Linked DNA regions of Homo sapiens: region 1 is linked to region 2. Evidence: fine-mapped expression QTL. A gene starts in region 2. The other region holds a variant in brackets. All regions are shown on one strand. Distances are between the middles of the regions. Region 1 overlaps TRPM4 (transient receptor potential cation channel subfamily M member 4). Region 2 holds the start of TRPM4 (transient receptor potential cation channel subfamily M member 4).

Region 1 (10,984 bases), 43 kb before region 2:
AGCTGTCTTTTCTTTGATCTCTTTGTCTTGTGTCTTCATTTCTACAATCTCTTGTCTCTGCACACGGGGAGAAAAACCCACAGACCTTGTAGGGCTGGCCCCTACAACCGTGTTAGCCAGGATGGTCTCGATCTCCTGACCTCATGATCTGCCCACCTCGGCCTCCCAAAGTGCTGGGATTGCAGGCTTGAGCCACCATGCATGGCTTTTTTTTTTTTTTTTTTTTTTTGAGACAAGGTTTCACTCTGTTGGTGGCACAATCATGATGGTGGTGAAATCATGGCTCACTGAAGCCACAGCCTTGACCTCCTGGGCTCAAGCCTTCCTCCCACCTCAGCCTCTTGAGTAGCTGGGACTACAGGCATGCACCACCACGCCTGGCAAATTTTTTATTTTTTTATTGAGATAAGGTCTCACTATGTTGCCCAGGTCGGTCTTGAACTCCTGGCCTCAAGTGATCCTCCCACTTTGGCTCCCTAAAGTATTGTGATTGCAGGCACAAGCCACCATGCATCATAATTTTTAAAAATCGTAAACTAGGAATAGAAATAAACTTTCTCAACATGAGAAAAGGTACTTCTGAAAAACCCACAGCTACCGTCATACCCAATGGTGAAAGAGTGAAAGCTTTCTGCCTAAGATCAGGGACAAGACAAGGATGTCCACTTTTACCACTGCTATTCCACATTGTGCTGGAAGTTCTGGCTAGAACAATTAAACAAGAAAAAAAATAAAAGGCATCCAAATTGGAAAGGAAGAAGTAAAAATATCTCTATTCACAGATGACATGATCCTATATATAGGAAATGCCAGAGAATCACAAGAAAGCTTCTAGGGCTGCAGATTCAGCAAAGTTGCAGGGTACAAGATCACACAAAAATCAGTTGTGTTTCTACACACCCGCAATGAACAATCCAAAAAGGAAATTAAGAAAGCAATTCCACTTACAACAGTATCTAAAGGTTAAGCACCTAGGAATAAAGTTAACCAAAAGGGTGAACAATTTGTAGCCTGAAAACTACCAAATACTGCTGGAAAAGCATTAAAAAGAACACCTAGATGAAATATCAATACTACCCGAAGCAATCTACAGATTCAACGCAATCCCTCGGAAAATTCCAACAACTGGCCGGGCGCGGTGGCTCACACCTGTAATCCCAGAACTTTGGGAGGCCAAGGCGGGTGGATCACCTGAGGTCGGGAGTTCGAGACCAGCCTGACCAACATGGAGAAACCCTGTCTCTACTAAAAATACAAAATTAGCCGGGCGTGGTGGCACATGCCTATAAGCCCAGCTACTCAGGAGGCTGAGGCAGGAGAATCGCTTGAGCCCGGGAGGCAGAGGTTGTGGTGAGCTGAGATCGCGCCATTGCACTCCAGCCTGGGCAACAAGAGTGAAACTCTGTCTCAAAAAAAAGAAAAAAAAAAAAGGAAAAAAAAAGAAAATTCCAACAACCTTTTTGACAGACATGGAAACTCTGATCTTTAAGTTCATATAGAATTGCAGGAGGCCCAGAATAGCCAAAACAATCTTGAAAAATAACAAAGGAGACTCATACTTCCAATGTCAAAATTTGCTACAAACCTACAGTAATCAACACTGTGTGGGCTAGACATGGTGGCTCACGCCTGTAATCCCAGCACCTTGGAAAGCCGAGGCAGATCACCTGAGGTCAGGAGTTCAAGACTAGCCTGGCCAACATGGTGAAACCCTGTCTCTACCAAAAATACAAAAAAATTAGCCGGGCGTGGTGGCAGGTGCCTGTAATCCCAGCTACTCAGGAGGCTGAGTTAGGAGAATCGTTTGAATCCAGGATGCGGATGTTGCAGTGAGCAGAGATCGTGCCACTGCAATCCCGCCTGGGTGACAAGAGCGAGACTCCGTCTCAAAAAAAACCCAAAAAACTGTGTGGTTCTGGCATAAGGATAGACGCAATCCAGTGGAATAGAATTGAAAGTCCAGAAATAAACTCATAAATCTATGAGTGTCATGCATTGAATTGTATCCCGCTAAAGATATGTTGAAGTCCGGCCGGGTCCAGTGGCTCACGGCTGTAATCCCAGCACTTTGGGAGGCCGAGGCAGGTGCATCACCTGAGGTCAGGAGTTTGAGATCGGCCTGGGCAACATGGTGAAACCCCGTCCCTACTAAAAATACAAAAATTAGCTGTGTATAGTGGCAGGCACCTGTAATCCCAGCTACTCGGGAGGCTGAGGCAGGAGAATCCCTTGAACCCAGGAGGTGGAGGTTGCAGTGAGCCGAGATCACGCCATTGCACTCCAACCTGGGTGACAGAGCAAGACTCTGTCTCCAAAAAAAAAAAAAAAAAAAAAAAAAAGTTGAAGTCATAACCCATAGTGCCTCAGAATGAGACCTTTTTAAATTTTTTATTTATGAAATATGTGGCTTTATTCGGAAATAGAGTTTACACATGTGATCAAGTTAAAATGAAGTTATTAGCATGGTCCCTAATCCAATTTAAGTAACGTTTTATTAAAAGGGGAAATCTGGAAGATGAAAGCAGAAGTTTCAATGACGCAACTAGAAGCCAAAGATGGCCAGCAAAGCACTAGACGTGACAGGAGGGGCATGGAACAGACTCTCCCCGACATCCCTCAGAAGAAAACAGCTTGACGGATGCCTTGATTTTGGACCTCTAGCATCCAGAATTGTGAGACAATTTCTGTGATTTAAAGCCACACAGTTTTTGGTACTCTGGCGGCCCTAGGAAACTAATACAATAGGTCCAGCACAGGGGCTTGTGCCTATAATCCCAGCACTTTGGAAGGCCAAGGCAAGAGGACTGCTTGAGCCCAGGGGTTCAAGATCAGCCTGGGCAATATAGTAAGACCCCATCTCTGAAAAAAAAAAAAAAAAAAAAACAACCAAAGCCAATGAAATTTTATATTTTCTCAGCAAAAATCATGCCAACAAGAAAGGAAGCAAACAGAGAGACCTAACATAGGATTAAAAAGGAGTTTCATTAAAAAAAAAAAAAATAGCCGCTGGGCACGGTGGCTCACGCCTGTAATCCCAGCACTTTGGGATCCAGCCGAGATGGGTGGATCACAAGGTCAGGAGATCGAGACCATCCTGGATAACATGGTGAAACCCCGTTTCTACTAAAAATAAATAAATAAAATAAAAGTAAAAAAAAAATTAAAAAAACAAGCCAGGTATGGTGGCACGTAACTGTAGTCCCAGCTACTTGGGAGGCTGAGGTGGGAGGATCACTTGAGCCCAGGAGGTTGAGGCTGCAGGTGTGAAGTGGTATCTCATTTCTGGTGTTTTGGTAGAGACAGCAGCCTCGCTATGTTGCCCAGGCTGGTCTCGAACTCTTGTGCTCAAGCAATCCTCCCACCTCAGCCCCCCAAAGTGCTGGGATTACAGGCATGAGCCACTACACCCAGCTGGATGACTATAATTTTTACAAAAGGAAAATAACAAGTGTTGGCTAGGATGTGGAGAAATTAAAACCCTCATACACTGCTGGTGAGAATGGAAAATGGTGCAGCTGCTGTGGAAACCAGTTTGGTGGTTTCTCAAAAAGCTATACATAGAATTACCACATGACCGAGGAATTCCACTTTGAGATACACACCCAAAGGAAATAAAAACAAGGATTCAAATAGATACTTGCATGCCAATGTTCCAACAAACATTAGTCACAATAGCCAAAAGGCAGAAAGAACCCAAGTGTTCATCAACAGATGAGCGGGTAAATCAAATGTGGTCTTCTTTTTTTGAGATGGAGTCTCGCTCTGTTGCCCAGGCTGGAGTGCAGTGGCACGATCTTGGCTCACTGTAGCCTCCGCCTCCTGGGTTCAAGCGACTCTCGTGCCTGAGCCTCCCAAGTAGCTGGAATTACAGACATGAGCCCAGCTAATTTTTGTATTTTTAGTAAAAAGGGGGTCCTGCCACGTTGGCCAGGCTGGTCTCGAACTCCTGACCTCAGGTGATCCACCCGCCTAGGCCTCCCAAAGTGCTGGGATTACAGGCATGAGCCACCACGCTGGGCCCAAATGTGGTCTATTTGTACAATAGAATATTACTCATTCATAAAACGGAATGAATGAAGTTCTGATGCACACTACAACAGGGATGAGCCTTGAAAACATGCTCAGTAAAATCAGCCAGACACCAAAAGACAAATATCGCATAATTCCACTTACATGAAACATCTAGACTAAATCCATAGAGACAGAAAATACACTGGAGGTTACTAAGACCTGTGGGGAGGGGAAGTGGGGAGTTGCTGTTTCATGGGGACACACTTTCTGTTCTGGGTGATAGAACGTATTGAAAATAGATAGTGGTGATGGTTGGAGAGTACTGTAAATGTAATTAATGTCACTGACTTGTACACTTAAAAATGGTAAAAATCAACTCCGGCCGCGGTGGCTCATGTCAGTAATCCCAGCACTCTGGGAGGCCAAGGCGGGCGGATCACAAGGTCAGGAGATCGAAACCATCCTGGCTAACACGGTGAAACCCCATCTCTACTAAAAATACAAAAAATTAGCCAGGTGTGGTGGCGCACGCCTGTAGTCCTAGCTACTTGGGAGGCTGAGGCAGGAGAATCGCTTGAACCTGGGAGGTGGAGGTTGCAGTAAGCTGAGATTGCACCATTGCACTCCAGCCTGGGCGACAGAGCGAGACTCCATCTCAAAAAAAGGCGGGGCGCGGTGGCTCACGCCTGTAATCCTAGCACTTTGGGAGGCCAAGGCGGGTGGATCACGAGGTCAGGAGATTGAGACCATCCGGGTTAACACGGTGAAACTCCGTCTCTACTAAAAATACAAAAAAATTAGCTGGGCGTGGTGGCGGGCACCTGTAGTCCCAGCTACTCAGGAGGCTGAGGTAGGAGAATGGCGTGAACCCGGGTGGCGGAGCTTGTAGTGAGCTGAGATTGTGAGATCGTGCCACTGCACTCTAGCCTGGGTGACACAGCGAGACTCCGTCAAAAAAAAAAAAAAAAAAAAAGAAGTAAAAATGGAAAATTTTATATAATTTTACCACAATAAAAAACAAAGTTGGCTGGGCGCGATGGCTCACACCTGTAATCCCAACACTTTGGGAGGCTGAGGTGGGCCAATCACTTGAGGTCAAGAGTTCAAGGCCAACATGGTGAAACCCTATCTCTACTACAAATACAAAAAATTAACTGGGTATGGGGGAGTGGGAAGTGGAGGTTGCAGTGAGCTGAGAACTTGCCACTACACTCCAGCCTAGGTGACAGATTATCCCAGCACTTTGGGAGGCTGAGGAGGGAGGATCACTTGAGTCCAGGAGCTCGAGACTAGCATGGACAACATAGTGAGACCCCTCTCTCCAAAAATTTTTTTAAATTAGGCAGGCCTGCTGGCCTGGCTAATTTTAAGTAGTCCCAGCTACTTATGGGGCGAAGGCAGGAGGATTGCTTGAGTCCAGGAGGTCGAGGCTGCAGTAAGCTACGATCACATCACCACACTCTAGCCTTGGCGACAGAGTGAGACCCTGTCTCAAAAAAATACAAATAAGGAAGTTCAACCTGGGCTCAGGGAGAGGATCAGTCCAAAGTCCAAATTACAAGCAGGGTCTGGTTGGGTTTGGGGAGAAGGCAGCATTAGATTGGATCAGAGTTCAGGGACTAAAAACAGAATTCATTAGACGGGGTTCAAGAGTCATGAGAGGGCCACGGGTCATGCTGGGTGGGGTCAGATCAGAGAGCAGTCAGGCCTCACCTGAACATGGCAATGAGCAAGTTGACCAGCAGGATGTTGGCCACGAGCAGGAAGATGACGAGGAGCAGCACCACCAGCCAGTTGGCATACTGGGAGACGCAGGTGCCCGCCTGGGCCCCAGGAGGGTGTGCCCAGAAGCCGGGCTCCGACGAGCAGTTGCTGTGCTCCATGAGGGCCACTGTGAAGAGAGACATTCAGAGATGGGGTGAGGGGGACAGAGACCTAAGAAAGACAGGAAGACTGCCGGGCGCGGTGGCTCACGCCTGTAATCCCAGCACTTT[TG/G]GGAGGCTGAGATGGCCGGATCACCTGAGGTGGGGAGTTTGAGACTAGCCTGACCAATGTGATGAAACCCCATCTCTACTAAAAACACAAAACTGTTAGCCAGGCGTGGTGGCACGCGCCTGTAGTCCCAGCTACTCGGGAGGCTGAGATAGGAGAATCGCTTCGATCTGGGAGGTGGAGGTTGCAGTGAGCTGAGATCGTGCCATTGCACTCCAGCCTGGGCAACAAGAGCAAAACTCCATGTAAAAAGTAAAGTACAGGTTCCTCTTCAAAGACTTTCCTCCCCATCTAATTAACAATAAATAGTAACTTCTCTTAGAAACAAAATTTATTCAAACACCTGTGCTAACATTCTTAAATATCTACTAGCCATAAAAAATAAATCAATGTACTTTATGTTCTTAGCTCTCACAATTTAGCCTAAATATTTGCCCTGACATACTTATACTGGTTCAAGCAAGCATTAGATCATAGCCTGTTCCTCTTCCTTATTTAAAAGTGTTTTTACCTTTCTCAACATTCCACAAGTTACTTCCTCCTTCCTTTGTTCTCCTCTGCCTTCGCTTCTTTTAAAAACTTCTAAGTTACTAGCCAATCAAGACAAATACAAAATGTAAAGTCCGGTTCCAGCCAATAAAAACCAGACACAGCAGTAAAATAGACGCGTCAGGTTATAAATGACCCTATCTCCTTTGTTCCGTGTACTCTCATGACAAAACTGCTGGCGAGTGTACCCTTTCTACAAAAAATAAAAATGGCTTTACTAAAAAAATTAAATTTATGTTCAAGTACTATTTCTTTACGACACCACAAAATAAACATTTCTAACATCCATCTCAAAAAAAAAGAAAAAAAAAAAGAAAAAAGAAAGACAGACAGAAAGACAGAGGGGGTGGGGTAGGCAGAGACCCAGAGAGATGATGATGGGGAATATAGGGTATCACTCAGAGATCCAGAGAAAGAGGGAGACAGAGACTCAGAGAGACAGATATTTTCTTAGAGCCAGGAGGACAGAGACCCAGGGAGCGGGGACAGAGACTCAGAGGAAGGCTGTCAGGCCGTCATCCCCCCTACCGTCCATGTCCTCCTGGGGAATCTGCCCGAAGATCTGCAGGTAGGGACGGTAGAAGACGCGGCGCAGGATACTTGGGAAGTCACTGTCCCGTGGCCTCAGGAGCCCCTCCGTGGCCACGCCATAGGCTACCAGCCACACGCCGAGGAAGAAGAGGAAGAAGAACACGTCCTTCATCTGTGGGGAGATGTGGCTGAGTCTGGCCCCGCCCTTTCCTACTCTGGCCCCACCCCTATATCCCAAAAACACGCCCCATTGCTCCCCAAAGTCACGCCCCTTCTCCACGGACCACTCCCTCCCTGGCCCCACCCCTTTCCCTATGTCCCCGCCCACTTTGGCCCCGCCCCTGCCTCACCATCTTGCTCACGATGACGATCTTGGGCCCCAGCTGTTTGTTGACCGTGAAGATGTGAAGCAGCCGCACCGTGAAAACCATGAAGTCGATGCAGAGGACAGTGCGGCCCAGGTGGTACAAACCCGGGGTCAGCCTGGGGTGTGGGGAGATGCCACAAGGGTCAAGTGTCACAAGACGCCAAGGAAAATGGAAGTCTTCCCAATGCCATCCTTCAGAGGAAGCTGCAGCCTCCACCGGGCAGGACCAGGACCCTCCCAGTCACCCGGGGTTTACTCAAATTTATTCAGTACCAAGCTGGTCCATGCAGGGCCCTGGCACCCATTTTTAAAATGGCTGCGCCTATTAAGTAATGACTGAATGAACGATGGCCTTAGCAAAGAGCTGGTCCCTGTAAGAATCAAGCTGGAAAAACTGCCGGAATATCTGTCCAACCTATAAAAGGCAAAACATATAGAGTCCTTACAAACTAATACGCAAAAGGAAGGAAGCCAGATAAAGGATACCACGTACAATTCACAGAGGACGTTCAAACGGCCAGTAAACATCAATAATTCCTATGGGGAAAATAAAAATTCTACCCCTATTTTGCATCCTCATGTACTTAAACTTTGGATGGATTAAAAACCTAGTGTATGGACAGACGCGGTGGCTCACGCCTGTAATCCCAGCACTTTGGGAGGCCGAGGCAGGCTCAAAAAAAAGAAAAGAAAAGAAACATACAAAAGTGAAAGTGAAAAGACAAGCCACAGACTTCGAGAAGATATGAAGATATTAAGACCAACAAAACTACCGAGGATTAGGATCCAGAGTATAAGGAGTATATACATTTATACATATACAAATCAATGAACCCCAATTAAAAAAACGGGAGGGTGGCCGGTCGCAGTGGCTCACGCCTGTAATCCTAGCACTTTGGGAGGCCGAGGCGGGCGGATCACGGGGTCAGGAGATCGAGAACATCTTGGCTAACACGGTGAAACCCCGTCTCTACTACAAAATACAAAAAATTAGCCGGGCGTGGAGGCAGGCACCTGTAGTCCCAGCTACTCAGTAGGCTGAGGCAGGAGAATGGCGTGAACCCGGGAGGCGGAGGTTGCAGTGAGCCGAGATCGCGCCACTGCACTCCAGCCTGGGCTACAGAGCGAGACTCCGTCTCAAAAACAAAAACAAAAACAAAAACCAAAAAAAAAACAAGGGGGCACAAGGACATATGGCCATTAAGCTTAGGAAAAGATGTCCAACCTATCTGGTAGTCAAGAGTGCATAAATTATAACAAGGAGAGGTCATGTTTACCCATTAAATTGGCAAATTTTTTTTCAGTTAAATTGAGAGCTACATTTTAGAGTGAAAGTATCAGGCATTGTCGAGCATGGCCTCAAGGGGGCACTCTCTTACCCTGATGGCAGGTGTGGAAATGAGTGAAGCTACTTAGAAGGAAATCTATCCATGTCAAAAATAAATGTACCCTTTGACCCATAAACTTTACATCTGGGATGTAAACTTTTATTATTTTGGAATAATAAAAAAACAGAAGGCTGAGCATAGTAGCTCACGCCTGTAATCCCAGCACTTTGAGAGGCCAAGGTGGGAGGATTGCTTGAGCCCTGGAGTTTGAGACCAGCCTGGGCAACAGAGTGAGACCCTGTCTCTATTTAAAACAAAAAAAGAAAGAAAGAGAGAACCTAAATGTCCATCTAGAGGGAACTGGCGAAACAAAGGATGATTCATCCATTCAATTCCGGAGATGATTAGACATTTCTCCCTTTTTTTTTTTTTTTTTTTTTTGACAGAGTTTTGCTCTTTTCACCCAGGCTAGAGTGCAGTGGCATGATCTTGGCTCACTGCAACCTCCGCCTCCCAGGTTCAGGCAATTATCCTGCCTCAGCCTCCCGAGTAGCTGGGATTACAGGCGCCTGCCACCATGCCCGGCTAATTTTTTGTATTTTTAGTAGAGATGGGGTTTCACCATGTTGGGCAGGCTGGTCTCAAACTCCTGATCTCAGGTGATCCACCCGCCTCGGCCTCCCAAAGTGCTGGGATTACAGGCATGAGCCACCACGCCAGGCCCGTTTCTCCCTTTTAAGCTGAGATCTTTCCATTTTTCACCTGGAAAGTGGTAGGCTTGATAAACTGTCCAAAATATCACTGGCAATCCTAGAGCATGGTAGCATATGGCCTTAGCCCTTTCATCTCAAAAGTCACTTTATACAAAATACAACAAATTACAAACAGAAGTATTAGTGTTCTGCAAAACTCTCATATCTTGCTCCCTGCTTGAATAAATTATTTATGTTGAATCACTTTGTAACACTGCTAACATAGCTTAGAGGAAGCCTGCCTCTCAGCGTGTCTACTGGGAAAAGCTTGAGTAGGGATCATCACTGTCATCACTGTCAACCATTCAGGATGTGTCAGGTCCCTTGTAAACAGTCACCAGGTTGTTGGCCAGGCACGGTGACCCACATCTGTAATCTCAGCACTTTCAGAGGCTAAGGCCAGTGGATCACTTGAGGCCAAGAGTTCAAGACCAGCCTGGTCAATATGGCAAAGCCCCATCTCTACAAAAAAAATACAAAAAAAATTTAGCTAGGTGTAGTGGTGCATGCCTGTAATCCCAGCTACTCACGAGGCTGAGGCAAGAGAATCGCTTGAACCCAGGAGGTGGAGGTTGCAGTGAGCCAAGATCGTACCACTGCACTCCAGTCTGGGCGACACAGCGGAACTCTGGCTCAAAAAAAAAAAAGAAAAGAAAGAAAACAAAAACAAACAAACAAACAAAAAACCAGTCACCAGGTTGTATCCACAAACTTTTCTGTTTGCTCTCCTCAAAAGGAGGAGTATCCTAATGCAGGATACTCCATAATGCAGGCAGGGCAAGGGTTAAACCCTTAGCTTGGAGGGATGGAAGGAAGCATAGAAGGAAGGAAGGAAGGAAGGAAGGAAGGAAGGAAGGAAGGAGGGAGGGAGGCAGAGGGGCAGAGGACAGAGGGAGAGAGAGAGAAAGAAAAGAGAAAAAGAAAAAGAAAAGAAAGGAAAAGAAAAGAGAAAGAAAGAAAAGAAAGAGAGAGAAAGAAAGAAAGAAAGAAAGAAAGAAAGAAAGAAAGAAAGAAAGAAAGAAAGAAAAAGAAAGAAAGAGAAAGAAAGAAAGAAAAAAAAAGGAAAGAAAGAAAAAGTCGGGGGCAGGAGGGCAAGGGGCCTGGGACCAACGAGCTATGTGGAGGAAGAGAAGGGAGGAGGTGAGGTTGGCACCCAGGTCGGGGCGCTCCCATAAATATCTGTTAAACTTCAGGCCTAGCAATAAATAGCAGCAGAGGCTGAGTGGCGGACAGTGGGGTTTTCTCCTGAATCCTGCCGTCCCTGAAGCCAGATCTCCAGGTGCCAGCCAATTACCCTGGGGCAATCGTCATGCCCGACTTTCCTAAGAGGGGTTCTCAATCAGCAGGGTTGGCTTGACCTGCTGCCCAGCTGCGGGGAAGCCGGGAGTGGAGACCCCGGGAGTGGGCAGGAAGGATGAGAGGTGGCCAGGGGCCAGGGTTCCAAGGCCCCGGGG
Region 2 (10,755 bases):
ATTAGCCAGGTGTGGCAGCATGTGCTTAGGAGGCTGAGGCAGGAGGATCACTTCAGCCTGGGAGATCAAGGCTGCAGTGATGCAGAGAGCTGTGACCACGCCACTGCACTCCAACCTGGGCAACAGAGTGAGACCCTGTTCAAAAAAAAGAAAAGAAGGAAAGAAAAGCAAGCAAGCAAGCAAGCAAGCAAGCAAGCAAGCAAGCAAGAGGCCGGGCGCAGTGGCTCATGCCTGTAATCCCAGCACTTTGGGAGGCTGAGGCGGGTGGATCATCTGAGGTCAAGAGTTTGAGACCAGACTGGCCAACATGGTGAAACACTGTCTGTACTAAAAAAAATACAAAAATTAGCTGGTCGTGGTGGCGGGTGCCTGTAATCCCAGCTACTCAGAAGGCTGAGGCAGGAGAATTGGTTGAACCCAGGAGGCAGAAGTTGCAGTGAGCCATCACACTATTGTACTCCAGCCTGGGAGACAAGAGCGAAACTCCATCTCAAAAAAAAAAAAAAAAAAAAAAAAAAAAAAAAAACTAAGGAAAGAAAGGAAGGAGGGAGGGAGAGAGACAGAGAGGGAGGAAGGAAAGGAAGGAAGGAAGGAAGGGAGGGAGGGAGGGAGGGAAAGAGAGAGAAAGAAAGAGAAAGAGAGAAAGAAAGAAAGAGAGAGAGAAAAGAAAAGAAAAGAAAGAGAAAGGAAGAAAGAAGGAGAAAAATGTATCTAAATTCTTTGTTCCAGATTCCAGGAGTTCAGATATCAGGGGAGACCTGTATTTACACAAACCTAGTGAGCAGATTTAAGAGCAATTTTACAGAAGGGATAGCAGAGGTGCTACAAGGATTTGGCAAAAGCCGTAAAGACACTAAAAGAACGGCTAACTGATCCACACATGGGATGAACCAAACACACTTAGGCCAGGTCCTGGCACAGTGAGAACTACAATAAAGTGTCTTCTTCATTCCTGAGTCTACCTCCAGGGCCCTGGCATGCCTCAGTTTACCGACTTTGTCCGTTCACCCATTTCAGCTCCATCCTTGAATCCCCTAGTTCCCCTGCAGCTACTTCCAACACCTGCAGCTACTTCCCAGAAAGTTTGCTCTTCTGAGCAAAACTTCAAGGACGGCTGGGCACAATCCAAGCACTTTGGGAGGTCAAGGCAGAAGGACTGCTTGAGCCCAGGAGTTTGAGAACAGCCTGGGCAATAGAGCGAGACCCCATCCCTACAAAAAAAATTGTTTTAATTAGCCAGGTGTGGTGGTGCACGCCTGTGGTTCCAGCTACTCAGGAGGCTGTAGCAGGAGGATCACTTGAGCTCAGGAGTTCAAGGCTGCAATAAGCCATGATCACACCACTGCAGTTCAGGCTAGGCAACAGAGCAAGACCATGTCACTAAAAATAAGAAATAAGGCCGGGCATGGTGGCTCATGACTGTAATCCCAGCACTTTGGGAGGCCAAGGCGGGCGGATCATGAGGTCAGGAGTTCGAGACCAGCCTGGCCAACATAGTGAAACCTTATCTCTACTAAAAATACAAAAATTAGCCGGGCATGGTGGTACGCGCCTGTAGTCCCAGCTACTCAGGAGGCTGAGGCAGGAGAATCACTTGAACCTGGGAGACGGAGGTTGTGATGAGCAGAGATTGTGCCACTGCACTCCAGCCTGGGCAACAGAATGAGACTCTGCCTCAAAAAAAAAAAAAAATAATAATAATAAAATAAAAGCTCTTCACGGAATAGTCTGGAGCTTGTACTGTCCAATGTGATAGCTGCATGGGTTCTTTGTAGCCATGGAGCTCTTTCTGTTCTAATAAGTTAAAATTAAATCAAATAAAAAATTCAGGTCAAGTGCAGTGGTTCATGCCTGTAATCCCAGAACTTAGGGAGGCCAAGGTGGGCGGATCACCTGAGGTCAGGACTTTGAGACCAGCCTGGCCAACATGGTGAAACCCTGTTTCTACTAAAAATACAAAAATCAGCTTGGCATGGTGGCGGGTGCCTGTAGTCCCAGCTACTCGGGAGGCTGAGGCAGGAGAATGGCATGAACCCGGGAGGCGGAGGTTGCAGTGAGCCAAGATTGCACCACTGCACTCCAGCCTGGGCGACAGAGCGAGACTCCACCTCAAAAAAAAATTCAGTTTCTCAGGTACAATGGCCATATTCCAAGTGCCCAGTAGCCCCCTGTGGCCAGGACTGCCATATTGGATGTAGACATAGAACGTTTCCAAAATCGTGGAAAATTCTGACATTCAGTGCTAGGAGCCATTCCTTCTGCACAGCTTGCCTCCTACACTCTTTCCTCGGTGGAGCCACAGAAACTGAAATAAATTGTTTTTTTGTTTGTTTGTTTGTTTTGTTTTGTTTTGAGATGGAGTCTCGCTCTGTCTCCCAGGCTAGAATGCAGTGGTACGATCTCAGCTCACTGCAACCTCTGCCACCTGGGCTCAAGCGACTCTCGTGCCTCAGCATCCTGAGTAGCTGGGATTACAGGCATGTGCCACAGTACCTGGCTAGTTTTTGTATTTTTAGTAGAGATGGGGTTTTACCACATTGGCCAGGCTGGTCTCAAACTCCTGACCTCAAGTGATCAGCCCACCTCGGCCTCTCAAACTGCTGGGATTACAGCTGTGAGTCACTGTGCCTGGCCTGAAATTGTTCTTGATAAAAATCATCAATTTCCTGCCTGGCTCCATATACAACGGCCCTTATTCAGGTTTCATCTGACTGTATCACAAGTGGCCCTGGCTACAGCTGAAAGGCTCTCATTCTGGAAACCCTCTCCTTGGCAGGATACCCCTGCCCCTCTGGCCTTCCTCCCCGCCCCGGCTGCTTCATGCCTGACTTGTTTGTGGCTTTCTCTTGCTTTTCACCTCCCTTGAGTGTAGGTGTTCCCAGTGCAAGCCTTCCCTACATGATTCTCAAACCCAATGTGTGCAGAGGCCAGTCAAGTAACTCAACAGAAAGAAGTAGCCAGGGCCAGGAGCAGTGGCTCACACCTGTAATCCCAGCACGTTGGGAGGCCCAGGTGGGCAGATCACTTGAGGTCAGGAGTTCGAGATCAGCCTGGCCAACATGGTGAAACCTTGTCTCTACTAAAAGTACAAAAATTAGCCAGGCGTGATGGTGGGTGCCTGTAATCCCAGCTACTCGGGGGGCTGAGGCAGGAGAATCGCTTGAACCCAGGAGGCAGAGGTTGAAGTGAGCCGAGATCGCACTACTGCACTCCAGCCTGGGTGATAGAGCGAGACTCCGTCTCAAAAAAAAAAAAGAGGTAGCCGGGTATGGTGGCTCTCGCCTGTAATTCCAGCACTTTGGCAGGCAGAGTGAGGTGGGAGGCTCACTTGAGTCCAGGAGTTGGATACCAGCCTGGTCTGGTATCAAAGGGAGACCCGGTTTCTACAAAAAATTTTAAAATTAGCCAGGCATGGTGGTGCATGCCTGTGGTCCCAGCTACTCCGGAGGCTCATGTGGGAGGATCGCTTGAGCCCAGCAGGTCAAGGCTGCAGTGAACCATGATCGTGCCACTCCAGCCTGGACAACAGAGCAAGACCCTGTCTCAAAAAAAAAAAAAAAAAAAAAAGAGAGAGAGACAGAAGACAGATATTTTTAAATGCTCTTCTAAACACACACACACACAAACACACGCACACAATTGGCTATAGAATTGCCAGTTTGCAACTCCCCTGACTTTACACGTTGTTTTCCCTGTGACGTCTTACCTACTTCCAGTTTCAATTACCAGCTACAACTCGGACCTCTCAGATTCTGGACATTAGTCCAGACCTTTCCCAATCTCAGTCCCCACATGCCCCTCGGTCCCCCTAGGCCGCTCATATGCACAGATTCCCACATTGCACTCAGCGACATTTCCCAAACCTGCTTGCCCTCCTGAGCTCTCCATCTCAGGGACAGCCCCACTGTGTCCCAGTCAGCAGAGCATACGTCCCGGAGCCATCCACCGATGGCGGCACCCCCTCTCTCCCTCATCACCCTCATCAAGCCCCAAGCTCTGCCTTCCTGCCCCCTGAGTCTTTGCCCCATGCCCTCCTCTCTGTGTCCCGAAAGCCCTGACCTGGCTCAGGCCACTACCCCTCCCGCTCAGACGCTCTCTACAGCCTCCTCCCGAGCTCCTGTTCATCCTCTCCCAGCCCCAGAAAGTTTTTCCACACCCAGAGCCAACCCCACTGCTGCGGTGATGCCCCAGCTCCCAAGGACAAGATCCCAGCCCCTTAGGGTGGCCTCTGACACCCTGCAAGCTCTGGCCCTGCCCTCCTCTGCAGCCTCTTCTCTCATGACAGTGCTCCCTGCACCCTGAACTTTGATTCATATTCAAGCCAAACCATATGGTCCTTAGCAAGGACTTTGCACATGCTGTTCAAATCACTTTTTTCTTTCTTTCTTTCTTTTTTTTTTTTTTTTTGAGATGGAGTCTTGCTCTGTCACCCAGGCTGGAGTGCAGTGACGTGATCTCTGCTCATAGTAGCCTCCGTCTCCCAGGTTTAAGTGATTCTCCTGCCTCCTGAGTAGCTGGGATTACAGGCATGCGCCAATACGCCCAGTTAATTTTTGTATTTTTAGTAGAGATAGGGTTGCACCATGTTAGCCAAGCTGGTCTCGAACTCCTGACTTAGGTGATCCACCCGCCTCGGCCTCCCAGATTGTTGGGATGACAGGCGTGAGCCACAATGCCCGGCCCCAAATCGCTTTCCATGGGCCTCTCTCCAGCTCACTTTCAAATGTCACCTCACTAGCCACTCTTCCTCCCTCCAGAAACCATTAGTGACATTTTGTGTCCCCTCCCAGTCTTAAGCAAACACCTCCTCCCAGCTCTCACAGAGCCCAGTGGCTCGTCTTTGGGAGCTGCAACCCCTTGCCTTACTATAATTATCTTCTGCGTTTCTTCCTCCTCAGGCCAGACCAGAGTTTCCTAAATTGTCTTGACCACACTGACCTATCAGTAAAAAGGTTTTGAGCACTCACGTCCAACAAGCGCATATCTGTTTATTTATCCATCATTTACAAGCCATACTGCACTAATATATAGTCATAACAAAATACACACTGAAGTAGGAATGTGGATACTTCCCGCACCCCAAAAACTGTCTTGAAAAACAACTAGAGGGCTGGGCGCGGTGGCTCACACCTGTAATCCCAGTACTTTGGAAAGCCAAGGCAGGTGCATTGCCTGAGATCAAGAGTTCAAGACCAACCTGGGCAACAGGGTGAAATCCCGTCTCTACTAAAATACAAAAAATTAGCTGGGCATGGTGGTAGGCACCTGTAATCCCAGCTACTAGGGAGGCTGAGGCATGAGAACTGCTTGAACCCAGGAGGTGGATGTTGCAGTGAGCTGATATCGCAACACTGCACTCCAGCCTGGGCGACAGAGCCAGACTCTGTCTCAAAAAAACAAAAAACAAAAAACTAGAAAGCCTGGGCCAGGTGCGGTGGCTCACACCTGTAATCCTAGCGCTTTGGGAGGCCGAGGCCGGCGGATCATGAGGTCAGGAGATCGAGACCATCTGGCTAACACGGTGCAACCCCGTCTCTACTAAAAAAAAAATACAAAAAATTGGCCCAGCGCGATGGCTCACGCCTGTAATCCCAGTACTTTGAGGGGCTGAGGCGGGCGGATCACAAGGTCAGGAGATCGAGATCATCCTGGCCAACACGGTGAAACCCCGTCTCTACTAAAATACAAAAAATTAGCCGGGCGTGGTGGCGGGCGCCTGTAGTCCCAGCTACTCGGGAGGCTGAGGCAGGAAAACGGCGTGAACCCGGGAGGCGGAGCTTGCAGTGAGCCGAGATCGCGCCACTGCACTCCAGCCTGGGGGACAGAGCGAGACACCGTCTCAAAAAAAAAAAAAAAAAAAAAAAAACTAGAAAGCCTGGATCCGCTTGAGAGGCCGTCACTGAAGGGCGGGAGCTCCTCGCGGACGCACACACCCTATCTAGCTCAATTGGTGTCCCCGGCCACCAAGACAGGGCCCGCCCGCGGTAATAATTGCCACCTCCCAGTGGGAGCTGCAGATATTTCCCAGCGTCCTGTGCTGGGCGCTGTGCCAGGAATATCACAAGCATTAACTTGTTTAATTCTCATAATAACCCCAGGAGATCAAGCCTCTTTTGATGCCCAGATGAGAAACGGGACCCAGAGAGGTGAAATGATTTGCCCGAAGCCACACAGCACGTGTCCCAGGGGAAATTGGAACCCTGGCAGGGCCGTTGAATTAGGCTAAAGGGACCTTGGGAGCGCTGAGTGAGGGTTTCTTGCATGGATGGATGAATGAATGAATGAATGAATGAATGAATGAATGAAACAGAAATACCCAAAAGGGAAAGACAGAGACACAGAAAGTGACACGAAGAGACAGAAGCACATAGAAGAGACATCGGGGAGGAAAGAAGCAGAACCGAGCCCTGGAGCGTCTACACTGACCCTGAGCGGGAGAATGGCGAATGGGGAATGAGGGGTGTCTACACAGACCCAAACGCTCCTAGAGGGAGAGCGTCGGCAAGGAACGCCCTTGGGAAGGTCCCCGAGTCCAGGAATGGGGAAGGAGCAGGGCTGGGGCGTGACCATCCGCGGGCGGGGTCAGCGGGCCGCGGACCCTCTGGGGTCAGTCCAGGGGCGAACTCCTCACCCCGGATCTGTGGAGTCAACTATGAACGTCGTGCAGGTCTTCTTCTTGAAGATCTTGGGGATCCAGCTCTGGGGACAGGAACAAATGTAGGGGTGGAAGTGGGGTGAGAGGGCACCCAGTTCTGTCCTATGGGACACAGAGCCACCCACCCCGTGCGCTCCCCACGGACACAGGAGTCCGGGCCCCCAGCGCCCTCCCGCTCCAGACTCAGGAGTCTCGACCCCCATGCCCTGGACCCTGGAACCTGGACCCTCCCATCCCCCTCCTCCGTCTGACCCAGGAATCTGGGTGTCCAGCGCCCTCCTCTCTGGGAGCCTGGAGGCGAGGTCCCCAGCTCCGCGCTCCCGCAGACCCTGGTCCGGCGCTCACCTGCTCCTTCTCCGGCACCACCATGCTGCCGCGGCCGCCGCAACCTCCTGCAGCCCAGGGCCCCGGCGCTCCCTCCGCCGGCTCTGCTTCCAGACCCGCCCAGAGCAAACCGGATCCTCCACTTTCCAGCCTAGCCTGGGGCGGGGCGAGGTCTGGGGGGCGGGGAGTCTTGGAGACGCCAAAGCGGGAGGCGGGGAGAGGGCGGGTCCCAGGCCGCGATAAGGGGACAGAGGGACAGCGACCTGGGGGGTGCAGAGGTCCGGGCCGGGGGGAGAGAGACACACAGGGGAGACTCCAAGGGCAAGCGCGAGATGGGAACAGAAGGAGTTGGGGGCCAGTGGCGGAGAGGGAACAGACTCAGAAAGGAGGATGCCAGACAGGGAGGGGACAATTTAACCCAAAGAGGGGGAGACAAAGACTTAGGGGACAGAGAATCAGAAGGTGGGGCAGCAGGGACCCAGGGATAGACAGAGAGAGAGGGGGACAGAGACCCACAGAGAGAGGGGGACAGAGACCCAGGGAGAGGGGACAGAGACCCAGAGAGAGTGGGACAGAGACCCAGAGAGAGTGGGACAGAGACCCACAGAGAGAGGGGGACAGAGACCCAGGGAGAGGAGGACAGAGACCCAGAGAGGGGGGGACAGAGACCCAGAGAGGGGGGGACAGAGACCCAGGGAGGGGGGGACAGAGACCCAGGGAGAGGGGACAGAGACCCACGGAGAGGGGGACAGAGACCCAGGGAGAGGGGACAGAGACCCAGAGAGAGGGGGACAGAGACCCAGAGAGAGGGGGACAGAGACCCAGAGAGACGGGGACAGAGACCCAGAGAGAGGGGGACAGAGACCCAGAGAGAGGGGAACAGAGACCCAGAGAGAGAGGAGGACAGAGACCCAGAGAGAGGGGGACAGAGACCCAGAGAGACGGGGACAGAGACCCAGAGAGAGGGGGACAGAGACCCAGAGAGAGGGGAACAGAGACCCAGAGAGAGAGGAGGACAGAGACCCAGAGAGAGGGGGACAGAGACCCAGAGAGGGGGGGACAGAGACCCAGGGATGGGGGGACAGAGACCCAGGGAGAGGGGACAGAGACCCACGGAGAGGGGTACAGAGACCCAGGGAGAGGGGACAGAGACCCAGAGAGAGGGGGACAGAGACTCTGAGACAGAGGGGGACAGAGACCCTGAGAGAGGGGGACAGAGACCCAGAGAGAGGGGAACAGAGACCCAGAGAGAGAGGGGGACAGAGACCCACAGAGAGAGGGGAACAGAGACCCAGAGAGAGGGGGACAGAGATCCACAGAGAGAGGGGGACAGAGACCCACAGAGAGAGGGGAACAGAGACCCAGAGAGAGGGGGACAGAGATCCACAGAGAGAGGGGGACAGAGACCCAGGGAGAGGGGGACAGAGACCCAGAGAGAGGGGGACAGAGACCCAGGGAGAGGTGGACAGAGACTCTGAGACAGAGGGGGACAGAGACTCTGAGAGAGAGTGGGGACAGAGACCCAGAGAGGTGGATGCCAGAGATGGGGAGGAGACACCTTGACTGAGGCAAGGGGCAGAGGGGGATGCAAAAACCAAAGAATTGGGGGAAGGGCAGGAACTCAGAAAGGAGGGGCCAGAGATTTAGGGGAGAGAGAGGGACACAGACTTGGGGGAGGACTGACACTAAGATAAGAGTGGGACAGAAGCCCAGAGTGAGAGGGAGAGGCAATCCCATGGAGGAGGGACAGGGACCCTGAGAGAGCAGATGACAGAATTGAAGAGAGAGGAGGACCCGTGAACAGGAAAGGAGACCCTAGTGGGGGCAGTCATGAAGGGTGAGGAGTAGGAAATACTGACACACAGAGACGGGCAAGGCCACTTGTCTCCTGCCAGCCCTCTGTGATGGGGACAGCTGTGGCCTCCGTAACCTGAGTCCCCCTACCCCTCCCAGCTGTATTTATAGCCCTGGCCTAGCCCAGTCCCTGCCCCCAGATCTGAGTTCCAGGGACAGGAGGTCATGGGCACGTGTGTTGGGGGCCATGTTCCTTTCCCCCCATTCTAGGGCCTCAATACTGACATCACTCTCTCACCAGCACGTATCATTCCAGCTGGAAACACCCCGCAATCGAACCCCCAGTCCTTCCGTCCCAGGAGTCTCTCCCCTCTGATAAGTCTCTTCTGCCTCCCCCAGGTGCCCCAGGCTCCCCCAAAAACCTGCTAAAAGTCTAGCCTTTGTCTTTGCAGCTGCCAAACGTGAGCTTGTTGGTAGTTCAAAGTCAAGTCCCTTGGCCACCGTCTCCTGGCCAGGGAGAGACCCCTCACTGGTCCCCTCCCCAGCTGGGAGGAGGAGGAGCAGGAGGCAGGCAGGCGGGGACTGACCCAGAATAACTCAGGGCTGAGAGTAAATTTAGCTGGAGAGAGGGGAGGGGAAGGACCCTATTGGCTGGGGAATGGGGAGGGAGGGCCCCAGAGGGGGGTCAGGGGGCTCCGGAGACAGCCTCAGAGGGGTGTCCAGAGCCAGGCAGCAAGGACCAGAGGAAGGTGGACAGAGACCGAAAGGACAAAGGAGAGACACAGAGAAAAAAAGAGACCAACCCCAAAGGGACAAAGACCCCAACGTTTGTCCACATTGCCGCAGAGGCAGCTGGAGCCAGTGCTGCCTGTCCGTCCCCATGGGCCACCATAGGCCATGGCTGCACGCTTCTGTCCTCTGGGCTGGGGTGGCCAGCCTGCTCCTCCCCCCGGCCATGACCCAGCAGCTCAGAGGGGATGGGCTAGGCTTCAGAAACCGGAACAACAGCACTGGAGTCGCCGGGCTCTCCGAGGAGGCATCAGCAGAGCTTCGCCACCACCTCCACAGCCCTAGAGACCATCCAGATGAGAACAAGGATGTTTCCACAGAGAATGGGCATCATTTCTGGAGCCACCCAGACCGTGAAAAGGAGGATGAAGATGTCTCCAAGGAATATGGGCACCTACTCCCAGGCCACAGGTCCCAAGACCACAAAGTCGGAGATGAGGGTGTCTCAGGTGAGGAGGTCTTTGCAGAGCATGGTGGGCAGGCCCGTGGGCACAGAGGCCACGGGAGTGAAGACACGGAAGACTCAGCTGAGCACAGGCACCACCTCCCCAGCCACAGGAGCCACAGCCATCAAGACGAGGATGAGGATGAAGTTGTGTCCAGTGAGCATCACCATCATATCCTCAGGCATGGACACCGAGGCCATGATGGGGAAGATGATGAAGGAGAAGAGGAGGAGGAGGAGGAGGAGGAGGAAGAGGAGGCCTCCACTGAGTATGGACACCAGGCCCACAGGCACCGAGGCCATGGGAGTGAAGAGGATGAGGATGTCTCAGATGGACACCATCATCATGGCCCCAGCCACAGGCACCAAGGCCATGAAGAAGATGACGATGATGATGATGATGATGATGATGATGATGATGATGATGATGTCTCCATTGAATATAGACACCAGGCTCACAGGCACCAAGGCCACGGGATTGAAGAGGATGAAGATGTCTCAGATGGACACCATCATCGCGACCCCAGCCACAGGCACCGAAGCCATGAAGAAGATGACAATGATGATGATGATGTCTCCACTGAGTATGGACACCAGGCCCACAGGCACCAAGACCACAGAAAGGAAGAGGTTGAGGCTGTCTCAGGTGAACACCACCATCATGTCCCTGACCACAGGCACCAAGGCCACAGAGACGAGGAAGAAGATGAGGATGTGTCCACTGAACGTTGGCACCAGGGTCCCCAAC

What was found.
Region 1: its variant is fine-mapped to the expression of TRPM4 in whole blood (TOPMed, PIP above 0.99).

What each region holds. Positions count from the first base shown.
Region 1 is chr19:49,196,882-49,207,865 of GRCh38, reverse strand. TRPM4 (transient receptor potential cation channel subfamily M member 4) reads right to left here. Exons shown (of 25, transcript NM_017636.4): 18 at 7,434-7,566; 19 at 7,081-7,255; 20 at 5,725-5,902. Among named protein-coding and RNA genes, the nearest start is that of TRPM4, 45 kb to the right of the region's middle. RefSeq lists a silencer at 10,781-10,984. The variant TG/G (reference allele first, on the strand shown) is at 6,006.
Region 2 is chr19:49,154,136-49,164,890 of GRCh38, reverse strand. It overlaps TRPM4 (transient receptor potential cation channel subfamily M member 4), which reads right to left and starts at 7,099. Exons shown (of 25, transcript NM_017636.4): 1 at 7,001-7,099; 2 at 6,632-6,699. The coding sequence starts at 7,024. HRC (histidine rich calcium binding protein) reads left to right here and starts at 9,495. Exons shown (of 6, transcript NM_002152.3): 1 at 9,495-10,755. The coding sequence starts at 9,654. RefSeq lists a silencer at 5,874-6,060 and an enhancer at 6,744-7,365.